Linked DNA regions of Homo sapiens. The protein of the gene in region 1 purifies or fractionates together with the protein of each later gene. This does not show direct contact. Each region holds a gene or a part of one and is shown on either strand. Other genes may lie near its edges. The genes, in order: DCTD, ENPP6 and MT1X.

Region 1 (3,725 bases):
TGGCTCGGGCTTTGGTCTGATGAGAAGCAGGCTTCATTCAGCCCATGTGCCTGATGAGAACATCTGGCTCAAGCTCATTGCTGGCAAGCAGGAATCAAACTGTGAACTAGACATCAGGAGATGGAGGATCCAGTTGCTTCCTCCAGTTACAGGGGATGCTGCAATTTCACAGTAGGCTGTGGTCAGACCAAAAGCCAGAAGTGAGGCTGGGCACGATGGCTCACGCCTGTAATCCCAACACTTTGGGAGGTGGAGACGGGCAGATCACCTGAGGTCAGGAGTTCGAGACCAGCCTAGCCAACATGGTGAAACCCCATCTCTACTAAAAATACAAAAATTAGCTGTGCGTGGTGGCAGGTGCCTGTAATCTCAGCTACTCGGGAGGCTGAGGAAGGAGAATCGCTTGAACTCAGGAGGTGGAGGTTGTAGTGAGCCAAGACTGCGCCACTGCACTCCAGCCTGGGTGACAGAGCAAGACTCTGTCTCAAAAAACAAAACAAAAACAAACAAACAAAAAACAAAACAAAAACAAAGAAAAGAAAAAGCTAGAAGTGTAGAACTGTAAACCTTTGGCTTGACTGTCTCTGGATTTTCCCCTTGAAATTAGGGAAGGCTGCTTCTTAGAGTTTGTTGCCTGTCTAAGCCCCAGGGAAAATTCCTTCAGAGATTGCCTGGGAGGGTCCAGCCATAGCTTTACTTTTCCTTGCATTCCTTGGAGAATATGCAAGCAATGCTGGAAAAGAGGCAAATCATGCTGGGTATGCAGGTTGCTGATTTTTGTAAGGTTAGGCCCTGTATTTTATGTCTGAGAATGAACAGACTGGCGCTGTTGGAAGTGAAGGGAGAGTAAGGCCATCCAAATGGGAAAGATTGTGTCTTCAGGCCAAGGCGTGATGTACGACCTTTCTTCTTTGTTGACTCTCCTGGTAGGTTTTCTTCTGGGTTTTTCTCATGAAGAATCCAAGTCAACATTTAGTCTAATTTATATATTTTTACTAATGTTCCTGGACCTCAATCATGTTAAATAAGCCCCATAAATTTCTTTCTAAATTGCCTAGGGGCAACTTCTCCATGTTTGAAAGAAAAAGTTAAGAGGTACCTGGAGAGAGAGGAGGAACTGAGGACTGCAAAGCAGTCTGGGTTTCCAGGATGTGAAAAGTAGTTTAGGGATGAAGGGGACCGAATCCTCAGATCCTTGATTTAACCTCACCCTCCCTCGTCGGAGTGGGAAGAGAGGATGGAGTTGGGGGAGGGTAAGACTGTCTTCTCAGCACAGCTTCAGAGCCGGTGGTAGTGGATGACTAATTAGAAAAATGCGCGGACTCAGAAACTGTCACCCTGATTTTGATTCTATAAGCTTTTGATGGTAAGAAAGAAGGGAAGTGATTAGTTGTTTTTAAGTCCATGCAAAGATAATTTTTCACAGTGCGGTTCAAAGTCCCCTATAAAAATGGTGAAAGTGGAGGGTCGATATGTTAAAGGTCTGCATTGAACTGTGTGACGGCCACAGTCAGTATGTCACCGAGTCTGGGCAGTGAAATATTGGCCCTGGGGCTGGACTTTGATATGGAGGAATTCTGGGGGGATGGCGGTCCGTCATACTCAAGCTGGTGCAAAAGATACCCGTGGTTGGACAGTGCGGAGGGGTCCTGGGTGAGCACTGAGTGGGCCTCCCAATGGGGCCTGTGCCTTCTTCAGTCACCCAGAGCCCCCAGCAGATCTTTAAGCAGTGACCTGGAAGCCAAGGGCCATGCAGTACATTTGCAGCACCTGCCCCACACCCCAGACTTCCCAGCTCTCCTGACTTCCCGTGTAGCTGATTTTGTTGGTTATGAGACACTGCCTTTTGTCCAAATTGAGGAGAGTACCTTTCAGAGCCCCTTTCTAGAAGGAATTTTTTTAAAAACCTGCATAGGTATTTGTCCAACTTCACCGATTGTTTTTTATTGAATAGCTCCTGAGCTCCTGGGCACTGGTTGTCTGTCTGCATTATTTTTTATTATCCATATGATACCTCTAGGTTTTCAAAGCTCTTTGCTCTTACTTATCAATTATTCATTTATATGTAGCTGTGTTAGAATGTCGACAGTTTTCTTTCACGAGAGTAAGCTTGTAATTTGATGTACCATAAAAGTTGTAGAAGGTATTAAATGGTTTCTAAAAGGCATTTAGTATTACTGCCGCCATAATACAGTAAAGATGGGCTTAAAGTCTAAATGACGATGACTGTGTATAAACTGTACACTTGTTGTCTTCTCAAGGTTTTTCAGGCCACAGAGAAGTAAATGTTTGGATTGCCTGGGATGTCACAGAAATGTTTGCTGATAATTGACTCAAATGCAAAGTCTTTTTTTTTTTTTTTGCTTTCGTTTTAAGATTTTCAAAATTAATTTAAAAAATAAGGGGATACTGCCTGGAGTTGGATAGCTCAACCCATTCTTTCCTCATCTACATTAATGGTGACTGAGCTGCTGTAGCAGGAAGGGTAAATTCATAGGTTAATCCCTGTAAAGGAGCTTTAGAGATTATCTCGAGTTCTGGACAATGATTTTTAACTCTTTTGAATGTACAGGACCCTCTTTTAAATGCTGAAAAACTTCCAGGACCCCTGCATAATGCTAAATTCTTAGTATCTTTTGAGTAAGAAACTCCACAATGACAAAAACTACTTCGTATCAGTAACATTTTTTGTTAATCTGAACTTTATTAATTGGATAGCATTTATGTATGTTTGGGAAAAGTTTATGTATGTCCTGGACATGGGATTTATCCAGTTGTGGATATGCTTGGACCCCTTGCAATACCTTAGTAGTGTCTCAGGGTTCTATGCCCACAGGATCTAAGCCTCCTCCTTTCTTGTAAGTAACTTCTATAATGTCACACATGCAGGGTGACATCTCCTAATTCCAAGGTCAGTGCTCTTCCTGCTACCTCCCTGTGTCTCTCCTGTGGGGCACATGAATTCAGCTGTACTGAAATGCCAATCATTGTCTCATTTTTTTTTGCAGTTGATCAGACTGAGGCTCCGATAAAATAATTACTCCTCAGAGATCAGGAGCTCGGGGAGGGGTGGCCTGTGTCCGGCATCATGCAGAAAGCCACATGCGTGGCTCACTGTAACATTTCTTCAAAGGGGAGTGCAGTGGACTGAATGTGTCTCCCCCCAAATTCACATGTTGAAACCCTAATTCCAATGTGCTGATATTTGGAGGTGGGGCCTGGGGGGACGTAATTAGGCCATGAGGGTGGAGCTCTCCTGAATGGGATTAGTGCCCTTCTAAAAGGGACCCCAGGGAGCTCAGTTACTCTTTTTCCATGTGCAAGGATAGGCGGAGAAGATGGCTATCTGCAACCCTGAAAGGAGACCTTGCCAGAATCTAACCATGCTGGTGTCCTGACTTCCAGCCTCCAGAACCATGAGAAATAAATGTCCATTGTTTCTCAGCCACCCAGTCTATGGGACTTTGTTATAGCAGCCCCAAGGGACTGTGACAGGGAGCTTGAGAACTGTGTAAATTTGAGTTTACCAAATAACATACAGCTTAATACTGCTTTATTAATTCCGTAAGTCGGAAGTCATTAGTCCTGATTGATGCCTTGTGGGGAGGAGGGAAACACACACTACTTGTAACATAATAGGAAGATGGAGCTTTTCCTGGGCTGTGTCTCTAGAGAGTTATTTTTAAAGGGTGTTTTTGTTCTTCCAGTCTTGGGATCAAAACTTC
Region 2 (3,725 bases), 1.2 Mb from region 1:
GGAGCACTAATAGGGTTCATGATGTTGGCCTAAGAGAGGGTTCTGAAGATGCCTGAACATGCTACCTTTAACCAGTGATAGTTATCAGGTGCTCCCTGTCAGCCGAGCCCCAGGTCAGATATGCAGAGCCCCAAAGCTAAAGGAATTAGGAATGGAGCACCCCGAGGGTAACTACTGGATTACATTGGATACATTCCAGGGCCATGGTCTTTCTTTGTGAGAACATTAGTCAGCAAGGCTTTCATTCAAAAGCATGGCACCCTCCATTCCCAGATGAGGGAAATAGGATCATGAATGCAAAGCAGTGGTCTGGGAAGGACTATATACAAGTGAGAGTCTCAGGAATATATATATCTATATATATATATAGATATATTTTTTTTTTTTGAGACAGTTTCTTGTCACCCAGTCTGGAGTGCAATGGTGCCATCTCAGCTCACTGCAACCTCCACCTCCTGGGTTCAAACAATTCTCTTGCCTTAGCCACCTCAATAGCTGGGATTCCTGGAGCCCACCACCACGCCTGGCTAATTTTTATATTTTTCTTAGAGATGGGGTTTCACCATATTGGCCAGGCTGGTCTCAAACTCCTGACCTCAGGTGATCTGCCTGTCTCAGCCTCCCAAAGTGCTGGAATTTCAGACGTGAGCCACCACGCCCAGCCGAGTCTCAGGAATATTTTAAAGCAGAACCAAATCTAGCCCCAAACCCCAAATTTTAAACAAGGTCCCCAAAGCTGCATTAGCTTAAAGTTAAAATTTGGTGAAGAGATTCTGTCCATTAACAGAGGCCTCCATCACAGGTTCCTGTAACACTAAAAGCGCCCAGTCTTTTACAGACAGATAGATGACCCCTGATGAAAATGGACTGCGCTAATTGCAAAATGTTTCCAGGCAGATACAGCGTGGAGAGCCTCCCGCAAACCATCACGTTCTGGCTCCAGTTCTCATGAAAGATTAAACAGCTTTACACACTGGCTGTTTACTGAGAAGAAAATTTAAGAGCAAGGCCTTTAATAGCTATCTGGCTGCACTTTGAGATAAAGGTGCATCCCTCCTGATTAACTGTATGTGCTTCTCCCTTAGGGGGAAAGCTGGGCATCATTGCGGCTGCCCAGATGCAGCCTCAGAAGTCAGTGAGTCTGGTCCAGCAAAGAGAAAGGGAAGTAATTCTGCAGGAGAGCCTCACTCTTGTTAATCCCAGTTTCTAATTTGAACAGTCTAATCTTGCCCTGGAGAACTCCACGTTTGAGATAAGACAGCAGGAGTGGGAGTCAGTGAGCTGCCTGCGAGCTAGCAAGCCCCACTGGGAAGGCAGCCCCAGGTGGCCAGCCACAGTGTAAGCCTGCAGAACCTCCTCTCTGTAAGAGACACACCTCTCATATCCAAAAAAATGTAAACACGCGAGGATAACTTGGACTCTCTGTCCATGTCTGAAATGCCATCTTCAGCTAGTAGAGCCTGTCTGGGTCCTCAGTTGGATCAGGCATTGTTTTGCTCTTCAGGAATTTTCTAAAAGCTTTCTCATTCCAGCCTGGATTATTTCTGCACTGAGCCCAAAGCACTATCCCTGCGCAGCAGGAGGCCACGAACTAGGTGGGATGGGAAAGAAATCTCAATCCTCCTTTATGCTTAAATGCACAGAATTCGATTTCATATTTCCAGTGTAAAAAGATAATATTTTCTAATACTTTTGTCAGAAGAATTTGATCTCAGTTTTTCCTGTGAAGTGTTAAAGAAGAGGATTTTTGTTTTGTTTTGTTTTTTAGAGATGGTCTTTCTCTGTCATCGAGGCTGGAGTGCAGTGGCATGATGGCTTACTTGTAGCCTCCATCTCCTGGGTTCAAGAGATCCTCCTGCCTCAGCCTCCTGAGTAGTTGGGACTACAGGCACACACCACCGCACCTAGCTAATTTTTTATTTTTGCAGAGTTGAGGTCTTGCCATATTGCCCAGGCTGGTCTTGCACTCCTCAGCCTCAAGCCATCCTCCTGCCTCAGCCTCCCAAAGTGCTTGGATTACAGGTGTGAGCCATAGTGCCCAGCCACAAATGGATATTTGAAAGCCTGTGGGACACCTGGGCTTACTCTGGTCCACTGCCTCACATGCCCTCCCACCCACACACAGCAAGGCATGGCCCCATGTGGCAGTAGAATTATCACATCCAGGTCACATGAGAAGAAGATAGAAGAGTTGCTTCCATGCCGCTGGAACAACCATTCCACTGGATTCTCGTGCTGCACTTGATTCCTCGGATAGGGAAGTGTAACTACCATCCTCATCTGATTGTCTGATCTGCCTGAGAGGGGCTGGGATACTGGGGCAGCCCTTTCTTTCTCCTCTCTGGACAGGTTTTACATTATTATTATTATTATTATTATTATTATTATTATTATTATTATTTTGAGACAGAGTCTTGCTCTGTTGCCCAGGCTGGAGTGCAATGGCACGATCTTGGTTCCCTGCAACCTCCGCCTCCTGGATTCAAGCAATTCTCCTGCCTCAGCCTCCTGAGTAGCTGAGATTACAGACACCTGCCACCACACCCAGCTAATTTTTGTAAATTTTGTAGAGACGGGGTTTCACCATGTTGGCCAGGCTGGTCTTGAACTCCTGACTTCATGTGATCTGCCCACCTCGGCCTCCCAAAGTGCTGGGATTACAGGTGTGAGCCACTGTGCCTGGCCAGGTTTTACATTTTTTAAAACTAATTTTTACTCTGAGGAGAAGCTGACCCTTATCCTCCATGCCCCTGAAGAAAAGTAAACCCTCCAGATAATTTAGAAAGTGAATATATTCAAACCACAATTTGTCCTTGTCATAAATATTTATTAATAATAGTAGTGACCATTTACTGGGTATACACAGTGTTCCAGGAACGATGACTTTCTATGCCTATTTCCGGAGGTCACCCAGCTAGTGCATGCTGGGTGCAGGCTGGCGGTAGAGCCCACACACCTCTTTATATTGGATTCAACTTTAATTCTCCAAAGGGAGCAAAACGTGCTATTTGGGCAGTTGCCCTGGATCTAACATACTATGTGGCAGAAGTATCTATATTTAGCTTTTTTCCAATTTATAATTCCAGGATAAATAGAGGAGCAGAATTTGGTGTTGATACCTCTGCAATATATTGCTGTGTGTTGTTGTTTGTTTGCTTTTTAACTAAAGTATTTAGGATTCTTTAGCAAAGCAATTACAAAGATTATTTCTAATATCTTAAAAAACTTGGCTTTACGGCCCCCAAACAACTCATTTCCTTCAAAAGTTGTAGGGGAACTAGAAAGCACAGGCACAGGCCTTTATCAATGGCTTAAATCTCCTCCCTGAATTCAACCTTAATGTAGCATTGGGTATTTTGTTACAAGCTCTGGTTTGGGGCCTAAAAGTGAAGTTGCTTTTGTGTATTACTAAAATCTTACATTCACTCTTTAAATGGACAAGTGCTTTGAATTCTGCCTCTCATCTGCCCGCTGTAGAGAAGAAGAAATCCCTTGATTGAAATCCCTCCAAAGACTTGTGGAGTCACCCTCGGCGTCCCTCACTCACCGTGCTGCGTGTGGCCACCCTACCTGTGTGTTCTTGCGTGACTCTCGAGCTTGGGGCCACTCTGGGCAGAGGCACAGTGGTCTTCTCCATTAGATCGCTCAGAGCCTGCACATGGATCCCTGATTCAGATACCAGTTTGCTCATTTTCCACATGGCTAATGTATTTTATCTGTTGGTA
Region 3 (3,548 bases), on another chromosome or scaffold:
TTCACTCCAGAAATATAAAGCCATGAGCAAGATAGTCCCTGTCCCCATCACAGAAACGGAAGGATACCTGCCAGTTCTGCTACCACCTGCACCAATATGTGACTTAACGTTTTTCTTTCAAATGATTCCTATTTCCTTAGATATTTTTATATGAAAAGCAAACTCATTAGCACCACTGAAAAAAGAATCAGTTTAACTTCCAGACATAGAAGGTTGCCATCAAATTATGCTTATTCATATCCCCTCTGCATCTCTGTTTTGCTTCCAGGACTGACCTTGATGCTTGGTTTTGTTTAAAGATTTCAAGCAGTAAAGAGATGAATATATCTAGGCCAAAGGGAAGCTTCATCATTGCTTTGGGACGCTGACCGGATTCAGACCCAGCAGTGTCACTTCGCAGCCCTCTGACCCTGGGCTGGTGGCTTGAACTCCTTTTATTGTTGTTGTTCAGATTAGAATATGGGTTCATGAATAGAAGTATGTCCCTTTAGGGTTGCTGTGAGGGTTCAACGATGCAAAGTGACTAAAAAGGGCCTAACACGGATTAATGTTATGTAGAGTAATAGGAATATGGAAGGAAAAATAACCCTGTTTCTTGCATTTTAATTTAATCCGGAATCCGCATATCACCTAAAATGATCCCTTTTCTGGGAGCATTCCACATTTTCCAAACTGTCATCCTGTGGTGGGGTGCCCGGCTAGGCTATGGGGAGACCTGGAGAGTTTTATGCAAAGGAGGACCTGGGCAAATGTGCCCATTCAGCCTCTCAAGAGTGGAGAATGCAAGGACGGGGGCAGAGCCCTGTGTCTGTTCTGTCCCTAGACATAAGAGAAACGTGGCCAACAGACCGAGGTGGGGACGGGGACAGGGACCGGCAATGCAGGAAATCCGAGTGTCACATCCTCTGCCTCTCATTTGCACACTGCTCCCTCGCTATGCTCACCGCTCCCGCCGATCCAGGGACGTGATCCAGGGACTCTGGGAAATGCAAAGCTACACACAGTGGAGCGGGGGCTGGGGGTGTGTAGACCGCCGGGATTCCGAGTTTCCCGGCACGCCTAGGAGAGGGAGAGGCAGGCAATGTCAGGGAAATTGGGCAGGCAAGACGCCAGGGACGCCACGTACTGCCAGGTTCTCAACGAGGTGGAGCCAAAGGGGCAGGCCCCGCGGTGCGCCCGGCGCTGGGCTCACGGGTTGCTGCACCCGGCCCAGGATCGCGGGCGGTGCAGACTCAGCAGGGGCGGGTGCAAGGACGAGGCGGGGCCTCTGCGCCCGGCCCTCTTCCCGGACTATAAAGAGAGCCGCCGGCTTCTGGGCTCCACCACGCTTTTCATCTGTCCCGCTGCGTGTTTTCCTCTTGATCGGGAACTCCTGCTTCTCCTTGCCTCGAAATGGACCCCAACTGCTCCTGCTCGCCTGGTAAGGGACACCTAGCTCCGCGCCTTGGGATGCCCGTTTCCCAGCCACAGTACAGACTCTTCCTGGGTTTGAAGAAGTCGCATTTAAAGTTCTGAGCTGAAGGGGCTCCTTTATTTCGTTAGGTGCTTTCTTCCCGATCACGTCCCTGAGACCACTTCTCGCCTCCCTGTGCCTCTAAGTTAGAGTTGAGGGTACTGAGGCCCAAGGCTGTCCTGCTCCATGTCACCCAGTTGGTCAGGGGGCTGCTGGCTGAGCCCCAATGCTCTGACCAGGCTCTGAGCAGTCAGGGTGGATGGGAAGTGGGGGGCCATTGCCTCTTCGGAGTTCAGGACAGAAGGTTCTGGCCTCCTGTCTTAGCCTTCCTGGGCTGTGTCTGGAGCCTGGGACCTTGCTTGTGGGGTAAAAGCAACAGAACACTTGCCCTTCCCAAAATGAAGGGAGAGGAGATGGGGCTTCTCTTCCTCTCCCCTGAGTGGGAAAGGAGCTCTGGGGGCTGGTCCTTCAGCACAGAGGAGGGGTCACTGAAGCGTTATTGACCAGCTGCTGTACCTTCTGCATCTCACTCCACGCTCACTGCCTTTTTCTCTTCCTTGCAGTTGGCTCCTGTGCCTGTGCCGGCTCCTGCAAATGCAAAGAGTGCAAATGCACCTCCTGCAAGAAGAGTGAGTGCAGGGCCTTCCCTGCGAATCTGGGGGATGGGCCAAGTTAGAGCAGGGAACCCAGAGCTCTGCAGGCAGGGGCAGGCCAATGACCAGCTTCCCCAAACCCCTCCTTCAACACCTGATTCAGAATCAGACCTCAAATTGCCTTAAAAATGGGTGAGTCCCAGCCTCTTATTACCAAACTAGAAACTGAGGCCCAGAGAGGTTACCAGATAGTGTTGGGAACAAAGCTGGAATGTGAACCTAGGTCTCCTGCCTCCTGATGCAGCCTTCTTCACCCTTCTGGGTCCTGAAGCACTTAAGGCCCAGGATCTGGAAGACCCCGGGTGATTTCAAACCTAATGATCCAGTCCTTTCCTGCAGGGGTAGCCCAGAGCTTCCCTAGCCTTCCCCAGAACTGCTGTGTCAGGGATTTGCCCCCTGTCCGGCTGTGAAGACTTTCCTCATTTAAGGGTAGGTTTTGGGGAACTGGCCTCCTTTTGTTCCTGTACCCCCAATCACTACCTGTCCAGTCTTCTGTCCTGTCCCAGACTCAGGTGGGGCTGGGCAGCTTTTTCATATAAAACCCTCATCCCAAAGATCTACCAGTTCTCTTCTGACAAAGCCATGCCATCCTGAAATGATGGTCCTCTGGGGCTGGAGGCAGGGCTCGAGCCAGGCCTCTGTTGGGGCAGGGAGGTGCCTGATTGAGTCTGCTCTGACCTCTCACTCTCCCCTTCTTCTCCAGGCTGCTGCTCCTGCTGCCCTGTGGGCTGTGCCAAGTGTGCCCAGGGCTGCATCTGCAAAGGGACGTCAGACAAGTGCAGCTGCTGTGCCTGATGCCAGGACAGCTGTGCTCTCAGATGTAAATAGAGCAACCTATATAAACCTGGATTTTTTTTTTTTTTTTTTTTGTACAACCCTGACCCGTTTGCTACATCTTTTTTTCTATGAAATATGTGAATGGCAATAAATTCATCTAGACTATTCTGGCTCTGGGCACCTCATTTGTCACTGGGTATATGGCACTTGGTTCCAGTTGGATTGTAGGAAACCCAGATTGTGGGGCATTTCAGAGAGGGGACCATGGCAGTGGGGGTCTGGGTGCAAGGTTCCTGCAATCCTGCCTGGCCTTGGCTCTCCTTTGTGAACTATGGCAAACTAGGGGGTTTATTCTACCACCCTCTAGCAACGGTTAACTGGTAGTAGCTGCCCTTTTTGTGTAGCTGTGACACAGCCTATACTCACCAGCCACCTATGGTGCACCTACTGCATACACAGGCATGGGGTCCTCAGTGGTGAGGGGAACAGGGAGCTTATGGACTGCTGGGGGGAGAGAGAATTATAGAATAAGGAATCTTATAAAGGAGAAAGTACTGTGACTGAATGCACTTGGGGTGAGCCCAAATGAAGAACTCTTTCCACTGGGATCTGAGAGCTGCATTCCTGCAGAGGGCACAGCTCCAGCAAAGGTCTGGAAGTGGGGA

The links.
Region 2: the proteins of DCTD (region 1) and ENPP6 purify together in Homo sapiens (co-immunoprecipitation; one large-scale study listed by IntAct). This does not show direct contact.
Region 3: the proteins of DCTD (region 1) and MT1X fractionate together in Homo sapiens (co-fractionation; one large-scale study listed by BioGRID). This does not show direct contact.

The regions. Positions count from the first base shown.
Region 1 is NC_000004.12:182,910,787-182,914,511, reverse strand, and holds part of DCTD (deoxycytidylate deaminase), read left to right. Parts: intron 1-3,725. UniProt on the Homo sapiens protein: Catalyzes the deamination of dCMP to dUMP, providing the nucleoside monophosphate substrate for the thymidylate synthase/TYMS.
Region 2 is NC_000004.12:184,092,317-184,096,041, reverse strand, and holds part of ENPP6 (glycerophosphocholine cholinephosphodiesterase ENPP6 precursor), read left to right. Parts: intron 1-2,806; exon of another isoform or gene 2,807-3,725. UniProt on the Homo sapiens protein: Choline-specific glycerophosphodiesterase that hydrolyzes glycerophosphocholine (GPC) and lysophosphatidylcholine (LPC) and contributes to supplying choline to the cells.
Region 3 is NC_000016.10:56,681,149-56,684,696, forward strand, and holds MT1X (metallothionein-1X), read left to right. Parts: upstream 1-1,321; 5' UTR 1,322-1,392; coding exon 1,393-1,420; intron 1,421-2,016; coding exon 2,017-2,082; intron 2,083-2,809; coding exon 2,810-2,901; 3' UTR 2,902-3,048; downstream 3,049-3,548. UniProt on the Homo sapiens protein: Metallothioneins have a high content of cysteine residues that bind various heavy metals; these proteins are transcriptionally regulated by both heavy metals and glucocorticoids. May be involved in FAM168A anti-apoptotic signaling.